Regions from separate parts of the Homo sapiens genome. Here regions 1 and 2 are each linked to region 3. The links come from fine-mapping of genetic effects on gene expression. A gene starts in region 3. Each other region holds a variant in brackets. All regions are shown on one strand. Distances are between the middles of the regions.

Evidence for each region.
Region 1: its variant is fine-mapped to the expression of RASL10A in whole blood (TOPMed, PIP above 0.99).
Region 2: its variant is fine-mapped to the expression of RASL10A in caudate (GTEx, PIP 0.97). The same link has a PIP of 0.9 or more in putamen.

The regions. Positions count from the first base shown.
Region 1 is chr22:29,281,803-29,289,977 of GRCh38, reverse strand. It overlaps EWSR1 (EWS RNA binding protein 1), which reads right to left. Exons shown (of 17, transcript NM_005243.4): 6 at 7,421-7,588; 7 at 2,844-3,055; 8 at 1,192-1,372. Among named protein-coding and RNA genes, the nearest start is that of EWSR1, 18 kb to the right of the region's middle. The variant C/G (reference allele first, on the strand shown) is at 3,308.
Region 2 is chr22:29,342,091-29,350,261 of GRCh38, reverse strand. It overlaps AP1B1 (adaptor related protein complex 1 subunit beta 1), which reads left to right. Exons shown (of 23, transcript NM_001127.4): 10 at 112-227; 11 at 879-1,044; 12 at 7,879-7,977. Among named protein-coding and RNA genes, the nearest start is that of SNORD125, 13 kb to the right of the region's middle. The variant A/G (reference allele first, on the strand shown) is at 3,410.
Region 3 is chr22:29,311,088-29,319,255 of GRCh38, reverse strand. It overlaps RASL10A (RAS like family 10 member A), which reads left to right and starts at 3,559. Exons shown (of 3, transcript NM_006477.5): 1 at 3,559-4,228; 2 at 5,269-5,393; 3 at 5,688-6,323. The coding sequence starts at 4,010. The coding sequence ends at 5,955. It overlaps GAS2L1 (growth arrest specific 2 like 1), which reads right to left. Exons shown (of 6, transcript NM_001362985.3): 6 at 6,469-7,794. The coding sequence ends at 6,759. RefSeq lists enhancers at 3,563-4,367, 4,368-5,172, 8,115-8,168.

The DNA of each region.
Region 1 (8,175 bases), 29 kb after region 3:
CTATGTCTATTTTAAAACATCCAAAAAGAAGTGAAACCTTTATAATAGAGTATTTTCCAAATCAGAAGATTGATTTTACTTCATACCGAATCATTAAATTTTTGCCTGTTGTCAAATGACTTTCTTCCAATAAAGATTTCACTAAAGACTTTCTTAAAGTTATGCAGAATATGCAAAATAGTACTGTCTTTCAGTAGTGAAGAGTATTTGCTAATATGGAAGTTAAAAATCAACTTTAATTTTGAAGTTCATTCTGTTTTTTAAAAAATGCTATTTAATTTTTCCTTGAATAGTGGCACACCGTATCAAATGTAAATATCTAACATTCTGCATAACTTTTTTTTTTCTTTACCAGTTTATATAGGGACAGAACACACACAGAACTAAGCCTTCTGGATTATGTTAACCACCAATATTATAGCTCACCTTCATCAAAGTACAGACACCAGATAGGGAAAAGGGGATGGGAGAAGGGAGGGGAAGGGCAGGCAGAGGCAGCAGGGTTATGTCATTGATCTAAACAAAGTTTTCTAAACCAGATTGTGCCATCAATCAAAATGGTCAAACCGATTTAGACTTTCAACATCTCCAGTAGGAAGTGAGCCCATAATTATATACATTACTCTGCAAAATGCTATTGGATTTTTCTTTGCTCCATCCAAACTCTATGTAATCAGGTGCACCTCAGGCTATAGTTTAAGGATTATGGGACCAAAATCTTCATATGTTCAACGATTCTGAGTACAAACAGAAGTTGGGGACAAACACTGTGGAAAACAGCTGCATTCCTTTTCTGCAGTATATACACCAGGTATTTCAAGACAACCATTCAAAGGCAGTTAGTTAACAACTTAGGGTCATTAGAAGGGTTGTGTGTGTTCCATCCCAAATCTACTACCCACAGAGGCTTCTCACCTCTGGAAACCATGAAGGGAACTGAAAGCTCTGGTTTCAAAACCATTCTTTGTTCTCCCCGACCCAACGAAGTATACTGGCAGGGAAAGAAAATAAACTGCCACTTAATATATGCCACAAAGATGACATTTCCATGTTTTAGAAGATGGCTTGAGCTCAACAGATTGTCCATGGAAATGCAGAAATTAATTTCTTATGTCTTTCAGTCCCTTCTTTCCACTGAAAATCCTATGGATGAAACAAAATTAGGTAAAAGGAGAAAAGGTTTGCTCTTACCCCATTCCACCGCGTCCTCCTCCCCGCCCACCTCTGCTCATGCCTCCACGATCAAATCCCCCTCTTCCCCTGCCCCGGTTATCAGGGCCACTCATGCTCCGGTTCTCTCCTGGTCCGGAAAATCCTCCAGACTCCTGCCCATAAACACCCATGCTACTGGGGTGGTCCTGTCGGAATGAACCTGAGGAAAGAGTCACATCTGTAAGCCATGGACCAGCATTTACACCACTGCCTGATGTACTTTCTCCTGGAATCACAAAATCCTCAATTCCAAGGCACTAACCAAGGCACCATCTTCTTTACATCACGATAAAGCATCCTTAATAGGTAGGCTCTTTTAAGTTCAACAAAACTGCTGGATCATCACAGCTGAAATAACCTTATATAGTTAGCCTATAATAAACCTCTTCTAAATAACAACAACAAAAAAAGCCCTCTGGCTAACATATAGTTTATAGGGTTCTATATCCTAAGATGTCTCCAAAAGCAGCTTCTTTTGAGCTAAACTCAAGAAATGAAAACAGAGCCAGGTTTCTTAGGGCTTTAGCACACTGCTAGGGGCTGAGCTCCATAAATCAACACTACTCCTTTGAGTTGTTGAGAAATCCCCGTGGATAGAATGTAATTTAAAAAGAGCAATGATCCTAAATTCTGAAGATAATTATGTGTTTTGGTTACCTCTCTCCATACAGAAGAACTGCAAATATTCTGTGAGGAGGATTATTTTTCCCCCTTTCCTTTTCTATTTTCTTAAAGAATCTTTATTTATCTTTAAAAAGACAGGGTCTCACTATGTTGCCCAGGGTGGTCTCAAACTCCTGGTCTCAAGTGATCCTCCTGCCTTGGCCTCCCCCAAAGTGCTGGGATTACAGGTGTGAGCCACCATGCCTGGCCATTTTTCCCCTTAATGGATATAAACAAACAGCAACAAAAAAACATAGCTTTTACTTGACTATCAAAATCATAGTGGCCTGCAATAGCTGCCTCCCCACTTTACATTAATGACTGATAGGGAGGCCAAAAACGATGTTGAATTTACTCACTGCATACAACTTCCCCAAAGACAGCAGGGCTAGCAGTCTAAAACATTTTTTCTGATCAATTAGTATCTCTTTTCTTTTTTGCCAAGGCATACTAAAAACAAATTGGAAAAAAGCACTGAAATCTTCACTGGGGCATCCAAGATGTTAGCTGGAATGCCATGCCCTAAAGATGTGTCCTGGATTCCAAAAGCAAACAATGGCAAAGAGTATTCCCCCTGTTCAAAAACTCCAAACGTGGCTGGGCGCAGTGGCTCATGACTGTAATCCCAACACTCTGGGTGGCTGAGGCGGGAGGATCACCTGAGGTCAGGAGTTCGAGACCAGCCTGACCAACATGGTGAAACCCCGTCTCTACGAAAAATACAAAAAATAGCTGGGCATAGTGGCAGGCGCCTATCATCTCAGCTACTCGGGAGGCTGGGGCAGGAGAATTGCTTGAACCAGGAGGCGGAGGCTGCAGTGAGCTGAGATGGCACCACTGTACTCCAGCCTCAGCCCCAAGAGTGAAACTCCATCTCAAAAGAAAAACAAACCAACAAAAAAAATCAACCCCACAAAAAAACTCTAAACACATTCATTCTTATTTGGTTTTCTCTCTTAGCAACTCACTCTGCTGCCCGTAGCTGCTGCTCTGTTGGCTATATTGACTTGGAGCTTGGCTGTAGGATCCAGTTTGGGGTGGGTAACTAGTGGGAGGCTGCTGCCCATAGCTGCTTTGTTGACCATAGCTACTCTGCTGTCCATAGCTGCTCGGTTGCCCATAGGTGTTCTGCTGAGAGTAACTGCTCTGATCATAACTAGTCGGCTGTGTAGAGGAATAGCTGAAAGAGAGAGAAGAGAAAAAAAAAAAAGCTTTTTTAGAAAGAGGCTTGTTATTTCAAATCCCCTGAATAAAAGAGACATTCACACCATGTGACACAGACATCCATAAAACAGTAGTTACTTTCTACACATCAACAATTTGAATTTCAACTCAGCAAATACTTTTGTGTTCAGAATAAAACATTAAATGGGAGGGTAAAACAAAAAAATTTTTTTTTTTTTTTTTTTTTTTTTTGAGACAGAGTGTTGCT[C/G]TGTTGCCTAGGCTGGAATGCAGTGGCGTGATCTCCGGTCACTGCAAGCTCTGCCTCCCGGGTTCATGCCATTCTCCTGCCGCAGCCTCCCGAGTAGCTGGGACTACAGGTGCCCACCACCACGCCTGGCTAGTTTTTTTGTTTTTAGTAGAGACAGGGTTTCATCTTGTTAGCCAGGATGGTCTCCATCTCCTGACCTCATGATCCGCCCACCTCGGCCTCCCAAAGTGCTGGGATTACAGGCATGAGCCACGGTGCCCAGCTGGGAGGGGGAAATATTATAACCACCATCTGTATAATCCTTAAAGAGTTTTCTCTTAATCGCCACTCCCATTTAAAACAATGGTCATTTTCAGCTGGGAGCGGAGGCTCATGCCTGTAATCCCAGCACTTTGGAAGGCTGAGGCTGGGGGAATGGCATGAACCCGGGAGGTGGAGTTTGCAGTGAGCTGAGATCCGCTACTGTACTCCAGCCTTGGCGACTCGGGAACAGAGTGAAGATTCCGTCTCCAAAAAAAAACCCAAAAAATCAGGCCGGGTGCGGTGGCTCACGCTTGTAATCTCAGCACTTTGGGAGGCCGAGGCAGGCACATCATGAGGTCAAGAGATCGAGACCATCCTGGCTAACATGGTGAAACCCCCATCTCTACTAAAAAATACAAAAAATTAGCCAGGCCTGGTGGTGGGCGCCTGTAGTCCCAGCTACTGGGGAGGCTGAGGCAGGAGAATGGCATGAACCCAGGAGGCGGAGCTTGCAGTGAGCCGAGATAGTGCCACTGCACTCCAGCCTGGGCGACAGAGCGAGACTCCGTCTCAAAAGAACAAAACAAAACGTCATTTTCAACTATATTCAAGGCAGGCAAATATGGGAGTTTAGATGCTTCCTGTATTGTGGCAAGAATATGCACTTGGGGAAGGCTGACCCAGTGAAATGGGGACTGAGAAAATATAGAGAGAGTGAAGTGAGGCATTCAGTTCCAAGCCTGCCCGCCAATAATCTCGAGTTAACGATTTTCTGAAGGGATAAGGGTACTCAACACAAAAATAGTAGTTTTCCCTCAAAGATTTGTCTTTGCTACTTTCAATCTTTCAGACATGCCTGATTAACTATGAAATCTGAGTATTAATAGAGGAAACTTCAGAATGAAGGAATTGTATGAAAGACAAATATTAAGATTATGTCAATTACATGGGAGAAATTAATAGATACATTCTTGCACAGAAATGAAGCTTGAAAAGAACTGGTATTGGCCAGGTTTGAAGGCTCATGCCTGTAATCCCAGCACTTTGGGAGGCCAAGGCAGGTGGATCACCTGAGGTCAGGAGTTTGAGACCAGCCTGACCAACATAGTGAAACCCCACCTACTAAAAATACAAAAATTAGCTGGGTATGGTGGCACACGCCTATAGTCCCAGCTACTCGAGAGGCTGCGGCAAGAGAACTGTTTAAACCTGGAAGGCAGAGGCTGCAGTGAGCCAAGACAGCGCCACTGCACTCCAACCTGGGCAACAGAGCAAAACTCCATCTCAAAAAAAAAAAAAAAAAAACAAGGGCCAGAAGCAGTGGCTCACACCTGTAATCCCAGCACTTTGGGAGGCAGAGACGGGTGGATCACCTGAGGTCAGGGGTTCGAGACTAGCCTGACCAACATGGAAAAACACCGTCTCTACTAAAAATACAAAATTAGCTGTGTGTGGTGGCACATGCCTATAATGCCAGCTACTTGGGAGGCTGACGTAGGAGAATCACTTTAACCTGGGAGGCGAGGGTTGCGGTGAGCCAAGATCGCACCATTGCACTCCAGCCTAGGTAACAGGAGTGAAACTCCGTCTCAAAAAAACAAAACAAAACACACACAAAAACAAAAAAACCCATCTGGTATTAAGCTTTACAAATCATGATGAGAAACAGTAAGGACACATATTTTAAAGTCCGATTAAACTAGGCCAGGAAGTTCGAGGCTACAGGGGGCTACGACTGTGTCACTGTACCCCAGCCTGGACAACAGAGTGAGACCCGGTCTCCAAAAATAAACAAACAAACAAAGCTTCTAACACACCACATCCCTCACCATTGCTGTATGAATTCAATAATCTCTCACTGTGTACCTATCCAACTTGCCAGATTAACTGCTATTAACTGCTCTCAATGCAATAGGTACGAACCTGCTCTGTGGAAGAAGGGTTGTAAGCCCTACCCACTTTTGCTCCAAGCTGGCTGTATGGAGAGACACCCAATCAATTCTACTTGTTCCTAAACCTGTTCACATCTGCTGCAAAACAATGAAATGAGTGCAAAAAAGGGAACCGCTACTTCTAGCAAAACTTTCAGGGCACAATTCAAACAATTTGAAAACCCACATCTAATTAAACATGGGTTAAGAAAACTTGCAGGCTGGGCATGGTGGCTCACACCTGTAATCCCATAATCCCAGCACTTTGGGAGGCCAAGGTGGGCGGATCACTTGAGGCCAGGAGTTCAAGACCAGCCTGGCCAACATTGTGAAACCCTGTATCTACTAAAAATACAAAAACTGGGCCAGGCGCAGTGGCTCATGCCTGTATTCCCAGCACTTTGGGAGGCCGAGGCAGGCGGATCACCTGAGGATGGGAGTTCAAGACCAGCCTGACCAACATGGAGAAACCCCGTCTCTACTAAAAATACAAAATTAGCCGGTTGTGGTGGCGTCTGTATCTAATCCCAGCTACTAGGGAGGCTGAGGCAGGAGAATCGCTTGAACCCAGGAGGCAGAGGTTGCGGTGAGCCAAGATCACGCCATTGCACTCCAGCCTGGGCAACAAGAGCAAAACTCCATCTCAAAACAAACAAACAAACTGGCTGGGCGCAGGGGCTCGCGCCTGTCACCCCAGCACTTTGGGAGGTGGAGGCGGGTGGATCACCTGAGGTCAGGAATTCCAGACAAGCCTGGCCCACATGGTGAAACCCTGTCTCTACTAAAAATACAAAAAAAAAAATTTTTGCCAGGTGTGGTAGTGAGCACTTGTAATCCCAGCTACTCAGGAGGCTGAAGCAGGAGAATCACTTGAACCCAGGAGGTGGAAACTGCAGTAAGCCGAGATTGTGCCATTGCACTCCAGCCTGGGCAACAAGAGCGAAACTCCATCTCAAAACAACAATAAAACAAAAAGAAAAGTTAGTCAGGTGTGGTGGCATGCACTTGCAGTCCCAGCTACTCGGGAGGCTGAGGCATGAGAATCCCTAGGAGGCAGAGGTTGCAGTGAGCGGAGATCGTGCCACTGCACTCCAGCCTGTGCAACAGAGTGAGACTCTGTCTCAAAAAAGAAAACTTGGCCAGGCGATAATAATAAAAATAAAATAAAAAGAGTTGGCCCATACATTAAAAGGTTAGTGCATGAATAAACCTTTATGTGTTAGGTAAAATGTAAAATGATTAAGGTGAATTATAATGCCCTGCGCTTTACTTATCCTAACTGCATTGGGGAAGATGGCTCTTACATCTATTTACATGCTTTCATATACTTCTGCTTCCCATCTGAGTTAACTAAAACAGCAAAAGGAAGAAACTTAAAGAAAGAACTTAGAGTGGTAAAAATGTTTTTGTATTTAGAAAGAATAGTTATTAGCTGGGCCGGGTGCGGTGGCTCACGCCTGTAATCCCAGCACTGTGGGAGGCCGAGATGGGTGGATCACGAGGTCAGGAGATTGAGACCATCCTGGCCAACACAGTGAAACCCTGTCTCTACTAAAAATACAAAAAATTAGCTGGGCGTGGTGGCGGGCACCCGTAGTCCCAGCTACTCGGGAGGTTGAGGCAGGAGAATGGCGTGAACCCAGGAGGTGGAGCTTGCAGTGAGCCGAGATCGCGCCACTGCACTCCAGCCTGGGCGACAGAGAGAGACTCCGTCTCGGGGGAAAAAAAAAAAAAAAGAAAAAAGAATAGTTATTAGCTGCCAGGCAACACTATGGGACCCTAGATCTCAGGCTTTAATGTAACCAAGTATGGTCAGATGACTTATCACTGCGACAGTCAGATAACATACCTTAGCTGAAGAAGTCAAAGCAAGCTGGTCAACAACCTGAAAAAAACTGTTTTGTCACTGTTTTTGTTTTGCCACAAAAAGTAGACTGACCTGGTAGGAGGGTAGGATGGAGGTGCAGTGACTGGCTGCATGGGGTAGCTCCCAGGTACCTGGGGATAACTGTAGTTACTCTGTCCATATCCTAGGCTGGGCTGGTTGTAACCCCCTGTGCTAGATTGAGGTTGACTAGTCTCAGTGGGCTTGTTTCCATCCTGCGGTCTAAGAGGAGAAATAATAAATAAAATTAAAAAGTGACTTTTTTTGTGTGGTTGGTCAACCACAAAACTCCTGGGTAAGAATGCTACAAAGCTACGAGCAATAAGCAATGTTATGATTAAGCCTGGAAATAAATACAATAATAAATACAATCCTAAAGTAAACTACATCAAACTCAGTGTCGGTCCAACTATATTTGCTTGAAGACAACACTAAGGAAGGGGGAGAATCAATCATATCCACAGAAGAGACATTAATATGCTCCATTCATCACAGTAAACGCTATAAAAGTGCGTTGCGATATTGTGTGCTACCAGTTTAGGTGATCCGGGAGAAGTGATCTGTTAGGGAATAAATGCTTTTTCTCAAAGGGGACTGCTGAAGACCAGAAACTAACAATAATGTTAAGTTTTAGGTTGAAGTAACATTTACGTAAGTCCATGGCATCATAAATTTAGAGAATTTGTGGGTTTATGTTTCTCATTTATTAAAAACAGACCAGGTCAAGGCCAGGCGAGAATGGCTCATGCCTATAATCCCAGCACTTTGGGAGGCCGAGGAGGGCGGATCACGAGGTCAGCAGATTGAGA
Region 2 (8,171 bases), 31 kb before region 3:
AGGAAGGTGTGCCAGAAGTGATTTGCAGCCCTTGGCCGAGGCGTGGACATCAGAGGCTCTACTGGAAATGGGGTGCGGGGACCTCGCCCACACTCTTCTCTTCCCATGCAGCAATCTGCGGAGCGCTGTGTGAGCACGCTGCTCGACCTCATCCAGACCAAGGTCAACTATGTGGTCCAGGAGGCCATCGTGGTCATCAAGGACATCTTCCGCAAGTACCCCAACAAGTGCGTGCCCGCCCTCCTAGGGAGAGGGCATCTAGCTCTGCCTGGGGACAGGGATGGCGGGGCAGAAAAGGAAGGAGGAATCTCCTCTTCCTTACTTCTTGGCCACAAGCGTCATTCTCAAAAGAAACCCTTTGTTTTTTATTTCGTCCACACTGCCCCTCCTCTACTCCCCAGGCCAAAATAAGGGCTAACGTGTGACAGATGAAACTCAGATCCCCAGGCCAGGTGTGGTGGCTCTTGCCTGTAATCCCAGCACTTTGGGAGGCCGAGGCGGGTGGATTGCCTGAGATCAGGAGTTCAAGACTAGTCTAGCCAACATAGTGAAACCATGTTTCTACTAAAAATACAAAAAAATTAGCTGGATGTGGTGGCATGTCCCTGTAATCCCAGCTACTTGGGAGGCTGAGGCAGGGGCATTGCTTGAACCAGGGAGGTGGAGGTTGCAGTGAGGTGAGATCACACCACTGCACACCAGCCTGGGCAACAGAGTGAAACTCCATCTCAAAAAAAAAAACAAAACTCAGATCCCCTTTACCTGCCACCTTGGGGTCTTAGGAGGCAGGTCCCCTTCCCTCCTGGCCCCTGTCTGGCTTCCCTGGGTTTCCCGTTCTCCTTGAGGGCTCCCATACCAACTGTGCCCTGGTCTCCCAGGTATGAGAGTGTGATTGCCACACTGTGTGAGAATCTGGACTCCCTGGATGAGCCTGAGGCCCGGGCTGCCATGATCTGGATTGTGGGCGAGTACGCGGAACGGATCGACAACGCAGATGAGCTGCTGGAGAGCTTCCTCGAGGGCTTCCATGACGAGAGCACACAGGTGAGCCAGCGAGCTGGCCAGGGTGTGAGTCATGACTGGCAGCTCAGCCCCACTGTGGCCCATACTGCCATGAAACCCTCCCTTCCTATTACCTCGTAAACAGCCCTGACAGACAGATGAGTGATGTGCGCGTAATGGACACCGCCCCTTTTCCTCCTCACTGCAGTACAGTCGAGTCGGGGACACGTGAGAGTCTGTGGTGGTGTGCGTGGAAGGCAGGCAAAAGTTCTTCATTTTGTTTTAATTCCATAGTCATATTTTAATAGGAAATATATTGACTTGGTTTAAAATTGATACAAAAGCATATATAGTGAAAAGTTTCCCTCTCATCACTTTGTAGGACACAAATTCTCCTCCCAGAAGTCATCACTTTTTTGATTTCTTAGGAAAGTTCAGGAGATCATTTAGGAATACACCAGTAGACCCACAGATACACACACATGCACCCATCCTTCCTATACACACATACACACACATATGCAACCAATTCTTATTTTTCATGGTGCTTCTGTTCCATAGTCATGGCAGACACTGAATTAGCAAGTACTGAACCATAGCTCCTAGGAGAAATATAGAGTTTAGTTTCTGTGAGCATCTAGACCCAACGTTTTTGTCAATTGATCAGTTAATAACCTTTTTAAATGTGTGTTTCTGTTTAAAAACACCTTAGTTAATATATATTGTCAATTCATTGACATTGAACTCATGGCCATGGATACTGTAATTCATGCCTTAGCGAAGCTTATCAAGGACATGTTTTCTCTGAGGCACATCACAGCCTTCTGTGCTTGGGGACACTAGGCAAGCACTTCAGTGCTAGGGAGCATTTTAAACAAGGAAATCAACAAAAAGCTCAAAAATGTGAAAAACATGGCACTAAATAGGTGGTGGAAAGGATGCTTGTTTACAGGATGAGAGCTGAAACATGAGTGTTGCCTTATTTGACCTCAGCTGTGAATGTGTGTGTCAGGCAACTGAAAGCTTTCACGGTTCTGCACGTATTTGCAAATGACTGCAAAGGCACCATGAGTCTTGATTTGGGGGCTACAAGTAAATTTTAGCAAGTAGGCAGATTCACAAACATGGATTGCTCAAGTAGTGAGAATCAACTGTATCTACACTGCCCTCTCATTTATTTTTAAACACTGCTGTAGCATACTCTGTAAATTCAAATTGTTTAGCACCTTGCCTTTTTCTGTTACCAACACCTGCAAAGACCATGCTCTCATTCATTTATGCTTTATTTAACCATCCTCTCCTGGTGGGTATTTAGGTGTCCAGTCTTGTGCTCATTGAAACAGTACTGCCGAGAATAACCTGTGTAATGCACATCTGCAGGCATAGCTGGAGGATACATTCATAGGAGCAGGATGCTTAGAGAAAAGAGCATGTGAGTTTGAGATTTGGGTAGCTGTTGCCAGATTCCTGTTGTGGAGGTTGTGCTGGTTTAGACTCCTATCTCAGATGCTGGGATTGCCCTCTCCTTACTTCTGCTTTGTTTTTGCCAGTCCAGTAGCTAACAGGGGTACCTCACTGTAGTTCTGTTTGCATTTCTGTTATGAATGAGGCTGAATGTCTGCCTTGTCATTTGTATTCCCTTTTCTCAGTTAACTGGGAACTGTCTGTTAGTCTGTTGGTGAGCACAGAAATTTTTGCTGCCCAACTGGGGTTGTGTAATCCCGTGGGTCCAAGTGTGGGACTTAGAATGAGAGATCCCAGAGTCCATACCCCTCCTCTGCCCCTTCCTGGCTCAGTAACTTTATGCTTATCCCTTTAACTCTCTGAGCCTCAGTTTCTTCATTTGTAAAATGAGAATCATTAGATCTTCCCTCATCCTCTTGCTACGAAAGTTAAATTAGGGTGCTTTGTGTAATGTCCTTGACACATGGCCAGCCCATAATAAACACTCGTTCATGGTAGTGTTGGTTTGGGCCAAATTGGTTTCAAAAGCAAACTAGTCCAGGCCAAAAAGGGGACCAACTGGTTCCGGTAGCTGGCAAGTGTGGGTAGCATGCTCTCTTCTGGGACTCCTGGCTGAGGGTGCTTGGATGGTGGCATTGAGCTATCTTCTGCCATGGATAGGCTCCCAACAGTGGGAGCTGTAAGGAATCAACAGTTCCAGGCTATGTCCTTATGGCACAATAACTCCCATGGGAAGAGTTTTTCCCCTCCCCTCAGTAGTTCCAGCAAAAGTCCCAGGACCTATTTGCATTATCCTGAGCCAGGCACTGTGACTCTGGTTGGCGAGGTCTCTCAGGCACCGATCCCAGTTTGTGTGGACTGAAAGGGACAGAAAGAAGGGCGAGGCTCTGAAGGAAAGCCAGTGTTTCTGTTCCCAGAAGACAGAATAGATGCTGGGTGAGCA[A/G]AAACAACAGATGTCCATCTCAGAATCACAGTACTAATTCCCACCGTCACCCCCCCCCACTGCCACCTGCCTCCAGACTGCCTTTGCTTGCAATACCAGCCTCTTCCCTCTGTCTCAGAAGCAAAGCTTGCCTATGCTGGGTTCTGCTCCTGCAGTCAAGTCCTGCCTGGGATCACTGCAAGGATGTCCTGTAGTGCAGGGATCCCCAACCCCCGGGCCACCATGGCCTGTAAGGAACTGGGCTGCACAGCGGGAGGTGAGCGGCGGGCAAGCAAGCATTACTGCCTCAGCTCCGCCTCCTGTCAGATCAGCGGCGGCATTAGATTCTCATAGGAGCGCAAACTCTATTATGAACTGCACATGAGAGGGATCTAGGTTGTGTGTTCCTTATGAGAACCTAATGCCTGATCTGAGGTGGAGCAGTTTCATCCTGAAACCATCCCCCAACCCGCATCCCCTATCTGTGGAAAAATTGTCTTCCACAAAACTGGTCCCTGGTGCCACAAAGGCTGGGAACCGCTGCTGTAGGGGTGTGCTTCTGCCCCTATAATAGGGTCAGTCTTTTGCAGCTAAGCCTGCTAAAAAGCTAGAATGAGAGAAGCTGGACAGGGAGAGGTAAGCCAAGAGTCTGGTGGTGTGAACAGAAACAGAGCTCTGAAGTTTGAGATCCAAGCTCCTCCTCCCTGTTGTGTGGCCTGGAGCACAGTTACTTGAACTCACCAAACCCATTTCCTTGTCTCTAGTGCAGTTATTGCAAAGACTGCTGGGCCTTGTTTGTAAAGTGGGGGTGTGATGTAATTCAGTAGCCTGTTCACTTTGCATCTTTGGTTCACAACACAGTTCAAAGCTCTTTTAAGAATACTTGTTAGGGCCAGGCACAGTGGCTTACACCTGTAATCCTAGCATTTTGGGAGGCCAAGGCAGGCAGATCACTTGAGGCAGGAGTTTGAGACCAGCCTGACCAACATAATGAAACCCCGTCTCTACTAAAAATACAAAAATTAGCCAGGCATGGTGGTGTGCGTCTGTAATCCCAGCCACTCAGGAGGCTGAGGCAGGAGAATCGCTTGAACACGGGAGGCGGAGGTTGCGGTAAGCCGAGATCGCACAACTGCACTCCAGCCTGGGCAACAGACCAAGACTCCATCTCAGAAAAAAGAAAAAAAACAAAACAAAACTTGTTAACTGGGTGCAGCGGCTCACGCCTGTAACCCCAGCACTTTGGGAGGCCGAGGCAGGAGGATCTTTTGAGTCCAGGAGTTCGAGACCAACCTGGGCAACATAGTGAGACCTCATCTCTATAAAAAAAAAAAATTAGCTGGGTGTGGTGGCACACCCCTGTAGTCCCAGCTACTTGGGAGGCCTAGGTGGGAGGATTGCTTGAGCCTGGGAAGTTGAGGCTGCAGTGAGTCAAGATCACACCACTGCACTCCAGCCTGGGCAACAGACCGAGACTCCATCTCAGAAAAAAGAAAAAAAACAAAACAAAACTTGTTAACTGGGTGCAGCAGCTCATGCCTGTAACCCAGCACTTTGGGAGGCCGAGGCAGGAGGATCTTTTGAGTCCAGGAGTTCGAGACCAACCTGGGCAACATAGTGAGACCTCATCTCTATAAAAAAAAAAAAATGAACTGGGTGTGGTGGCACATACCTGTAGTCCCAGCTACTTGGGAGGCCTAGGTGGGAGGATTGCTTGAGCCTGGGAAGTTGAGGCTGCAGTGAGCCAAGATCACACCACTGCACTCCAGCCTGGGCAACAGAGCGAGACCTTGTCTCAAAAAAAAAGAATACTTGTTTAGTGCTTGACGATTTGGAGTTTTTTGTTTGTTTGTTTTAGTGGCGAAATCTCACTATGTTTTGCCCAGGCTAGCCTTGAACTCCTGGGCTCAAAGGATTCTGAATAGCTAGGACTATGGGCCTGCACCACTGCACCGGGCTTGACAATTATGGAACTCATTTTATATTGTCTTGTTGAATCTTCTCATCCTTGGCTCCTAGGCCTCTCTAGCCATGGACAGCAGACTTAGAAAGTCTTGGTCAGCAGCTGGGCTCACGCCTGTAATCCCAGTACTTTGGGAGGCCGAGGTGGGTGGATCACTTTAGGTCAGGAGTCTGAGACCAGCCTGGCCAACATGGTGAAACCCATCTAAAAATACAAAAATTAGCCAGGTGTGATGGTGTGTGCCTGTAATCCTAGCTGCTCGGGAGGCTGAGGCAGGAAAATCACTTGAACCCAGGAGGCGGAGGTTGCAGTGAGATGAGATCATCCCACTGCACTCCAGCTTGGGCAGGAGAGTGAGACTGCATCTCAAAAAAAAAAAAAAAAAAAAAAAAAAAATCTTGGCCAGGGTGGTATATCAGCCCAGCGTCTGGCCCTGTCCTGCCATCCCATCCTGTCTGGATGGCAGGGGCAATGGCATTATTGCAGAAGGCTGCCCTAAATATGCAGGCTAACGGCCTGAGTGTGTTGAGCGTGTTGAGAGGAACTGGAACGGATTGTTGAGCCAGGGCCCTGGGCACCTGGCCAGACCTCCCTCTGGCAATACAGCCTGAGGCATACCTGACTGGAACCACAGCAGATCTGACAGTGATGAATAATTCCAGGCATCCGGCTGACTGGACTGGGAAGAACTCTTTCAAGAGTCCCTGTGTGATGGTAGTGGTGATAATGACTGTGATGATGATAGCTGTTCTGTAGTGAGCAGAATACACAATGCTTCTTTACTTTTTTTTTTTTTTTTTGAGACAAAGTCTCGCCCTTGTCCCCCATGCTGGAGTGCAATGGCGAGACCTCGGCTCACTGCAACCTCTGCCTCCCGGGTTCAAGCAATTGTCCTGCCTCAGCCTCCGAGTAGCTGGGATTACAGGTACCTGCCACCAGGCCCAGCTAATTTTTGTATTTTTAGTAAAGACAGGGTTTCACCATGTTGGCCAGGCTGGTCTCGAACTCCTGACCTCAGGTGATCCAACCACCGAGGCCTCCCAAAGTGCTGGGATTACAGGTGTGAGCCATCACGCCTGGCCACTTCTTTACATTTGTGGTTTCATCAACTCTCCATTAACGCTGTGAGGTGTAATGACTGTTTTATACGTTAGGAAACTGACTCAGAGAAGCTAAATGACTTGCCGAGGGTCTGTCAGCTGAGAAGTGATAGAACTGGAGTTCACATAAGGTGTGATCTGACTCCAGCTCCAAGCAAGCTGCCATAAGTTGCTGTTTTTAAAGCTCACAAGAATCCCTGAAGTAGGCCACACCTCTCCTTTACAGATGGGGGTAAACGGCTTCCCATTGGCTGCCCAGGCAGGGCTAGAGTCTGGAAGCCAGATGCTGGGCTGCCTCCTGCCTTGGAAACAGCCAGCCTACTGCTCATCTGCTGCTGGCCCCCATGTAACCAAATTGCAGACTCTGGTTCACCCCAGAATTGGAGGACCACGTGCCCTCCATTCTGCCTGCCTCTGTCAGCCTTCCCTGCACAAGTGCCCTCCTGCTGGGCAGGTGCCAGAGATGCCGTCAGCACGGCTGCTGCTGGGCTTCCTGCACTGCCACTCCTGCCCTCCTGCTGCAGACCTGTCCCTGGCACAGCCTATGGGCTCCCACTGCCCCTGACTCCGGGAGCATCAGGCTGCCCCCTTGTCCTAGGACTAGCAAAAATGAGACCGTGACTAAGGAAGGATTATGTGCAGAGACTTGTTCTCGCATAGATGTTTCTTCAGTCAGCAAGTATTTCTTAAGTGCCTGCTATACACCAGGCACTAGATTGGGCAGTAATTAGTGACACGACAGTAAGCAAGACAGACATCACTCCAGCCCACAGGGGGCTCACTGTACAGGATAGCCAGCAACTGGTGGCGCTGTGACGGGGTGGAAGAGGCTGCAGAAGCATGGGGGGTCTGGAGGTGGGGTTGGCATGAGATCTGAAGGGTGAGGAGGTGTTGGCCAGGATGAGGGCAGCTTTGGGTATGTCCAGGCATGTGGCAGGGGCCGGTGGAGGGCCACCAGGAATAGTTCCAACCCTCTGGTAGAAGCACAGGTCCTTGACGGCAGGCTCTGTGGGCCCTGCTGCCCCAGTCCCCTGGGCCTCCATGGGACTGTCGCCACTTGTTGACAGATGGTCCTGATAAGAAGCACTCCAGCCACACATGTGAGCTTCTCATAGTTCTGTGAATTCTAGAGCTCCAACAGGTTTCTAAAACCCTAGGGCTGGGCAGCGGCCCCTGGCCTACTTGGGTTTGCCAAATAGTCCAGTATTCAGCTCCTTCCTGAGTGAGTGATGCCGAGGTCTGGCTGCTCAGCGGCACCAACACTTGTGGCAGCCCTTTGCCTGTGTGCCGTGACAGCCCCAAACCTAGAATAGCTATGCTTGGCTTCCAGGGACTTTGAACACCCTATTCCTCTTCAAGCCTTTTTGTTCTCCCTCTATCCCCATGTGAGGCCCACACTTCCTCCTCGTCACCGCTGTTCCCTGCAGGTCCAGCTGCAGCTGCTGACAGCCATTGTGAAACTCTTTCTAAAGAAGCCAACAGAGACCCAGGAGCTGGTGCAGCAGGTCCTCAGTTTGGCCACTCAGGTGGGTGCCCCAACCTCCCCGCTGTGCCCAGCATAGCCCTCACTCAAGCAGGGGAACTTTTGTCCCAGGAACTAGACCTGGAAGCCAGGCCCGCTCCTAAGACAGGTATCTTGTGGGTGGGACTGGCTTCCAGCCCCAGAGTTACCCAAGCTCCCTGCCTTCAGGGTGCTTAGAACACAACACAAAGTGCAGTG
Region 3 (8,168 bases):
AGTGGTGACTGGTGTGGCCTAGCAAAGGAGTCCAGAACTAACACCCCCTGGGAGCTGGATGCAGTCTTGGGTGCCTGACTTCAGGGATGGGCTGGAATCAGGCCCAGTTGGGAAGAAACACATGGGTGAAGGCCAGGTAGCTGGTGTTAGGAGCCTGTGGGCAATGAACTGGGGAAAGCAGAATTCCCCACCTGGTGCCTGCCCCTGCCCAGCCCTCCCCACTATCTGTGGCTTGATCCTTCAGGGCTCAGTATAAGCCCCTCAACTCCCGCTGGACTGGTGCTTACCCTAGGCCTCCTCATCTCCCCAGGCCTGAACCAGCCCAGAGCTCCTGTCTTCACCCGTCCCTGCCTAGCTGCATGTCTGTCTCTTTCTCCCTGCCACAGAGGGTAGGCAGGACCACCTTGGCCACTGTGTGCCTAGTGCCAGTCCCCTCTGCTGAAGGAGAAGATGCATGCATAGTTGGCAGGTGGTCCCTGGAGCCCTGGATAGGGGCATTCAAGGAGTGCCCAGGAGGCCCCTGGGGAATAGGGATTGGAGGGGGGCAGCAGGCAGGAGGCCTACAGCCTTTCCTTGGGGAAGGAATGAGGGGACTGATGAGAGAACCCTGAAATCCACATCCCAGGCAGACAGGCAGCTTCAGCCCCCCAGCCTGCTGGTCTTTAGGAAGCCTGGCACAGGGCTGCACACTCCCATTAGAGCTCATTTCAGCCCCTGTGGATGGGGGGCTCCACGGGACCTAGAGGCCTCCCCAAGTCCCTCCCGACAGGGGGCTGAGTGGTCACTGGGGGCTGAGCTTCAGTTGAGTACTTCCTGAGAACCCTCTGGGTCCAGATGAAGCCAGGCTTCTCAGCCAGGCTCTGGAGCCCAAGGGCCTGGGTTCCGGCCCCTGTGCTGCCATTTTCCTGCTAGGCAACTGTGGCCCAATCATGGCGTCCCAGGGAGCCTTAGTGAGCATGAGGCTGTGGGTCAGGCTTGGCACATCGCAGGCCCTTGATAAATGGGCACTGCTGCTAGGAACGCTGCTGTGAGAGTCTCCTAGGGAACATGGCACGTTTGCAGGGCTTCATGGGAGCCTCAGGACGTTCCCAGTCCACAGTGCCCCTTCCCCTCGCCATCCAAAAACACATACTGGGAGCCAGAGACGCCTCACACACAGCTCTGTTTGCAGTGTCGGAAGGAGAAGCAAGGAAAGTTTTTCAGAGAAAGAATACCCAGGGGTGGGCGGGAGTGCGCCTAGCATTGAGAACACCTTAAAAAAGACCGTCCTGGCCGGGCGCAGTGGCTCATGCCTGAAACCCCAGCACTTTGGGAGGCTGAGGCGGGTGGATCACCTGAGGTCAGCAGTTCGAGACCAGCCTGACCAATATGGTGAAACCCCGTCTCTACTAAAAAACACAAAAATTAGCCGGGCATGGTGGCATGTGCCTGTAGTCCCAGCTACTCTAGAGGCTGAGACAGGAGAATTGCTTGAACCCAGGAGGTGGAGGTTGCAGTGAGCCAAGATCGCACCACTGCACTCCAGCCTGGGTGACAGACCGAGACTCCATCTCAAAACAAACAAACAAAAGACCGTCCTGGTGTCAGCTTTTCAGACTTCTGGGTTTTGTTGTTGTGTTGCTGAGTGCCTTGTTATTTACTCCTTGCCTTGTTCCCCGAAGGAATTGAAGCAGCTCACAAAACCCAGAAGCCTGAAAAGTCAAAAACCCAGAAGTTTGGCCAGATGTGGTGGCTCACGCCTGTAATCCTCGCACTTTTGGAGGCTGAGGAGGGAGGATTGCTTAAGCCAGGAGTTCAAGACCAGCCTGGGCAACATAGTGAGATTCCACCTCTACAAAAAATAAAAATAAATCAGCTGGATGTCGTAGTACACACCTGCAGTCCCAGCTATTTGAGAGACTGAGGCAAGGAGGATCACTTGAACCCAGGAGGTTGAGGATGCAGTGAGCTAAGATCACACCACTGCACTCCAGCTTGGGTGACAGAGCAAGACCTTGTCTCAAACAACAAAACCCAGAAGTCTGAAAAGTTACAACGTGAAAGAGGACATCAAGTGAAGGGAAAAATCATGGTAGGAAAGAAAGATGAAGCCAGCAGTCCCCACTCACTGAGCTAGAAGACCTGGAACACTAGACAGAGGTGGTTCTGAGCTTCCTAGTGGCTGAGGAGAGGAGTGAAAGCGGACCCCAGCCCCCGATCTAGCATGGGAGGATGAAAGCACAGCCATTGTTCTGGAGACACTTTCTGGTTGTCATTATACAGGCTCCCTGGAGGATGTGCCTCCTCCCCCTTCAGGATTTAGCTCCTCTACTTCCCCTGGGCTGGTGTGGGCACATTGTCTGTGCTTTGACAGTCCCTAGATCCCATGTGTTCTAGAACCTTCTCTCCCAAAGCAGAACTTTTTTTTTTTTTCCTGTTTTCTGTTTTTTAAATCTATCTCAGCCTCCTGACAAGCAATAAGATTTGGAATATTTGTTGAGGGGATAAATAAATGAACTCCTTAGTCAGTGCAGAGATCTGTGCATTGCGGCCATTTCTTGAGCATTGCCGCCATTTCTTGAGCATTGCCATGTGCAGGTCAGAGACGTGGGAGCCCCCACACAGCGGGGAGGAGAGCAGAGGCGGAGGATGGGGGGGCTGGGCTAACCCAGGCTTTCCAAGCTGTGATGGGGCAGGAGCTTCTCCACTAGCTCGAGGGAGGGGGAACTTGGGCTCTGGGCGCCTGTTTTGGAGGTTGCATCCCTTTGAGGGGCGCTACGGGTTGCAACTCACGCAGGAAAGGTGACCTTAGTAGTGATGGAGGTGGAGTGGGCCAATTTCTGGATCTTTATTTAGTCACCTCCAGCCTTGCTGGGACAGGGATCTGGGGCTAAGCTGCTGTGGTCTCGGCACCCTCTGTCCCCACTTCCCCTCGAGGACGGCTGTTTGAATATTGTCTAGTGTGGGCCATTTACCCCCGTGGGCAGGAGGAAGGTAGGAGGGACTTCAAAGGAGACTTCAAGGGCCCCCCCACTGCCCTTCTAACCTTGCAGATTCCCCTCTCGGGCCTGTTTCCTCTTCTCTCAACCAGCGATGCCAGGCTGAGGCTGTAGGTTCGAGAATCACGTAGGTAATGGGCCTGGCACATAGTAGGCTCTCAAGAAAAGGTTGGAGCCTCTTGAGGAGTCTGCCTGTGATGGATGCGGAGCGCAGACCCAGCGCAGTGCGGCGATTCGCCCAAGGTCACACAGCCGCCCCCCCCAATTCGGACCCCGGGCGGCCTGACTCCGGGGGCCGGGGCTTGTCGGGAGCCAGCGTGGGGGCGAGCAGTGTTTGGAAGAGCGGCCGCGGCAGTGGGTGGGAAGGGGCTTCTATTTTGGAGCGGGTGAGAGGAGCGGGACACGCGGAGGAGGTAAGGAAGGGGTAGGCCCTCTCCGGGATCTCTGTCCCCCAGTCACCTTCCTGCGACCCTTCCTGGGAGGGGCGTCCTGGGCGGTGGGGGAAGGTGGGAGGGGCGGGCGGTTACCTCATCGCCGCCTCCGGGAGGCCCCGCTCGCTCGCGCCGGCGGCTGGGGCGGCGACTCCAGGCGCGGAAGCGAGAGAAGGATAGAGGCACAGAGGCTCCGGGAGGCAGCGCTGCCCCCCGCGCCCCGCACCGCTGCGGGACCCGCGCCGCGAGAGGGGCGGACTTCGGCGCCTCGCGCGTCCGCCGGCGCCTGGGTTGGCGCTGCGGGGCGGAGGCGGTGTCTGAGCGCCGCTCCGGCTCTGCTCTCTCTCGAGCTTCGGCACCCGCCCGAGCCGCTCGCGCGCCCGCCACCTGTCTGCCCACTCGGCTGTCTGTCTGCCCTCCCGCCGCCAGCTCCTGCCTCGGGCCTGCCCTCTCCGGTCTCGGTGCTCCGAGGGGCGACGAGAAGCGCGACGGGGCCGTGGCGCACCGGGCAGGGCGCGCGGGGCGCACGGCCTGGGGGCGCACGGTGCGGCGCCGGCCCATGAGGCTTTCCAGCGCGGGGAGCGACAGCGCCGGCCGGCCATGGGGGGTAGCCTGCGGGTGGCCGTTCTAGGCGCCCCGGGCGTGGGCAAGACGGCCATCATCCGCCAGTTCCTGTTCGGTGACTACCCCGAGCGCCACCGGCCCACGGACGGGCCGCGCCTCTACCGACCCGCGGTGCTGCTCGACGGCGCCGTCTACGACTTGAGCATCCGCGACGGCGACGTCGCTGGCCCCGGCTCGAGCCCCGGGGGTCCGGAGGTAGCGGCTCGAGGAGCGGGCAGGGGCGTGTGACAGTGTGAGGGGTGTGCGTGCTCGGTGCACACGTGCGTGTCCGCGTGGAGGCCTCGGGCGCCTGGCTGTGCTCCGGGATGGAGGGATGTGTGTGCGTCCTGGGATACTTGCGTTTCAGCCCTTCCCGCCGACCTGGAGACGCCCAAGCCCAGGCTGGAGGCCGGGCGATTTTGCCCAGGGGCGTTCCCTTGCTCCTGTGAGCGCCTCCACCTTTGCCTGCCTCGGCTGGGGGTGTGGAGCAGCTCTTGGTGGTGCATAACGGTGCCTTCCCGAGAGTGTGGCGTTTTGTGTTTGGGGCCTTGAGCAGAGCTACAATGGGAGAGACTGGGGTCAGGAGCAGGGGTGTACTTTCTACGGGGGCTGGTGGAGGGGTTCATTCTCTGCCCTATCATTTTTGTCCCCTGGAGCGAAGACTCGTTTAGTAATTTGTGCAAAGTAAAGGACAGACCTCCGACCCTAGAGCAGTGAAGAGGAAAGAGCAGGCAGGATTAAGCAGGGCTTCCTGGAGGGAGTGGCATTTGAGCTGAACCTGGAAGACCGAGTGAAGTTCTGAGTAAAGGAAGTGGCAAAAACATACCAGGTGGAAAGACCAGCAGGTGCTTACGCTACGGTCATAAACGGTTACAGCTGACAATCTGGGGGCGTGGTGGACCACGGGACTCGGGCCAAGGGCTTTGGAATTAGTCTTAGAGGCCGTGGTAAGCACCGAGAGCATCTAGGGAGGAGAGCGGCCTGAGCCGAGTTGGGGAAAGCTGAAAAGAGGAAGATTCGGGGTAAACAGAGGGGAGACCAAGGATGAAGGAGGCTGGCTGACAGGCTCCAGGCACGATTTGGAAAATTTTACCCTGGTGGTCATGAGGAGACGGCCCGGAAAGCTTGGGGGAGGGGCACAGAGGTCTGTATGGGGGTGATGTTGGCCTGAGGATTAGCGTCCAGGCCCCTGCAGAGGGTTCGAGAGCGGAAGAGTGGAAAGGAGGCTTCCGCAAACCCTGGCCTCCTGTCCCCAGGAGTGGCCAGACGCTAAGGACTGGAGCTTGCAGGACACGGACGCCTTCGTGCTCGTCTACGACATCTGCAGCCCGGACAGTTTCGACTACGTGAAGGCCCTGCGGCAGCGCATCGCGGAGACCAGGTAGGGGCCCGGCAGTTCTGGCGGTGGGGAGCTAGGACAGGTCTGGCAGGGCCTTTGCCTGAGGAGAGTGTGTAGGGTCTCCCAACGTCGTGGGCCGGGTCTTAGGCCTTCGCCCGTGGGAAGGTCTTAAGCTGTATGTGCTCTTTGGCCCACATGGGCCTGGGGTTTCGTTGGGGCGGCGGGGGGGGCGGTGTCTCTGGCCGTAGGAAGGGAATGCGCCTGCGTGTGTATACCCACTGGGGGAATTCTCCGGCCGTGGGGTCCCCGCGTCTCTCATCTCCATTCGGCCCCCAGGCCGGCGGGCGCGCCCGAAGCGCCCATCCTCGTGGTAGGCAACAAGCGGGACAGGCAGCGGCTGCGCTTCGGACCGCGGCGCGCGCTGGCCGCCCTAGTGCGCAGGGGCTGGCGCTGCGGCTACCTCGAGTGCTCCGCCAAGTACAACTGGCACGTGCTGCGTCTCTTCCGCGAGCTGCTGCGCTGCGCTCTGGTGCGCGCGCGCCCTGCACACCCGGCCCTGCGCCTGCAGGGGGCGCTGCATCCCGCGCGCTGCAGCCTCATGTGACCCGATCGGACAGTGCCATCCATGGGCCCCACCTTGTGACTGGGACAATCAGGGACCTGGATTGGACGGGATCGCCCAACTTCACTGGGACTGGACAGGGAAGTCTCCGCCCTGATTGGATGAGGAAAGCTCCAACCCAGTCTCCTAAGCGACTGGCCCCCTTTTGAACCTCATTGGACCCAACCAGGTCCCAAGCTCCATTGGAGATGACCAGTCCTTTCTGGGACCTCAATGGGTCACAATCCCATTGGATGGAAAGGACTTGGCTATGAACTTGACTGGAAACACGCAGCCTGCTCCTGGAGCTTCACTGGACATATTCTTTATGCCACACCTACCACGGGATAATAAAAGGGAAAATAATTTGAGTGCGCCTGGGATTTCTGGGCTGGGCGGGATAACGCCTTAAGCCTAGAGGTCAGAGTTGCCAGGCTTGGCCTCCAGGCAGTTAACTCCAGGGTCCTCGAAAGGGTCTGAATGGCCCCAAGGTGGAGTCCCCAAGAAACAGACAGGTGGCTGGAGCAAAACTTTACTGTCAGAGGCTCTGCTGGGCCACAGGTCTTCAGAACACCGGGCTCGCCCGGCCTCCTCTAAGGCATTCAATAATATTAGTAATTAAATAGCAACGCTCATCCCCCAACCGGAATGTACAACAGAGGTCCCATTGTGCCATGTGGTCCCAAGGGGTCTGGTCCCATGAGGTCTGGTACTCAAGAGGCAGAGGGGGCTCCCTGATGCAGAAGGGTTAAGGCCACAAAGGAAAAGGAGAAGGGATGGGGTCTGGGGACAGCTGAGCTGGTCCATCACATCCAGGAATCTGGCTCAGCCCTCGGGGTGACTGAGTGCAGGGCATGCCATGTCCCCAGCTCTGCGGGTCCGGAGGGGCGGCGGGGGCCCCGAGGCGTGGGGATACGTGAGGGTTTACGGTCTGGCTGTGTGTCCATCCGACCCCGTGCCCAGGTCCTCGAGGGTTCAGTGCAAGCCAGGGGGCTCCCAGGTGCATCTAGTGGCCCCCCCATGCCAGGGCAGGGGCTGCCTTCATCGGAGGAGCTGGAAAGGGCTTGGCTTCGGGGCCCAGGCAGCCCATTGGCCGTCCGGCCAGAGTCCCCAGGTTGGCCACATTTGCCACCCAGGACGCTGAGGGACGAAGAGGAGGAACTGGAGGAACAATAGGCAGAGTCAGGAGCTGGAGGGTCGGGGGCCCGAGCTGGGTCAGGGGCTGGTCCAGTGGGGGTCACGCTAGCAACAGCCTCAAGGGCCCGGGCATTGGCCAGGAACTCCTCTTCCAGGCGCCGGAACAGCTGCTGCTCCTGCTGCGGGTCGAGCTGCAGGGGTGTGCGGAAGATGCTGGCCGGTGTGGTGCCCAACTCTGGACTGGGGCTGGAGACCCGGGAAAGCCGGGGTGCTGCAGGGCTGCGGGCACGGGGAGTCTGGGGGGTGCTCCTGCCCGAGCCCCCACTGCCCCTGCCCCTTGGCACCCATGAGTGCTGCCCGTCTCGATCCCTGCGCACAAGCAGCACAGCCTGCTCCTCGCGGCTCTGGCTCCGGGCCCGCCGGGCAGGGCTGGGGACCGACAGCTGGGCTCCCCTGCCTCCTGGGGCCCCCCGGGGCCGGCCGCGATCCAGCCGGTCTCGGGACTGGCTGCGCAGGGCAGGAGGCCGTCTCGGAGAGGCCGGGGTGCCTGTGGTCAGCCGCCGGCTGGGTCGCTCCCTCCGGGGGCCAGTGCCTGTGTCATCACTGCGGGTACCAAGGGGGCCGCTCTGGGCGGAGGAGGCTGAGGAGTCACTGTCCCCGGAGTAGCGGCGGGAGCGGGGATGGGGGGGCAGCTGATCCCGGGGCCTGGGGCAGGGGGACAATAGAGACAGATGGGGTACCACGGAAGGACTGGCATGCAGAACAGGCAGGGAGAGGAACAGCAGGGTATGTGGCTGGTGGACGGGGCTGTCAGGGGCATCGGTCTGTCCTGGGGACTTCCAGGGAGAAGTGAGCAGCTTCCTCCAGCGGCCCAGGGCCCCAAAAGCCACGGAAGAAGAAGTTTCCTGGGCTCTAGACACCCCCCTTCCCAGGACGGGCCAGAGGAAGCAAGAGCTGGACTGGCTGCCGCCCAGCCACAGGGCCCGCCCCAGCTGTGTTGTTGGTTTGGTTGGGTTGCCATGGAGATGGGAAGCCAGGCCCGCCCCCACCCACGGGAACTTTTCCCAGGGTGTGAGTCA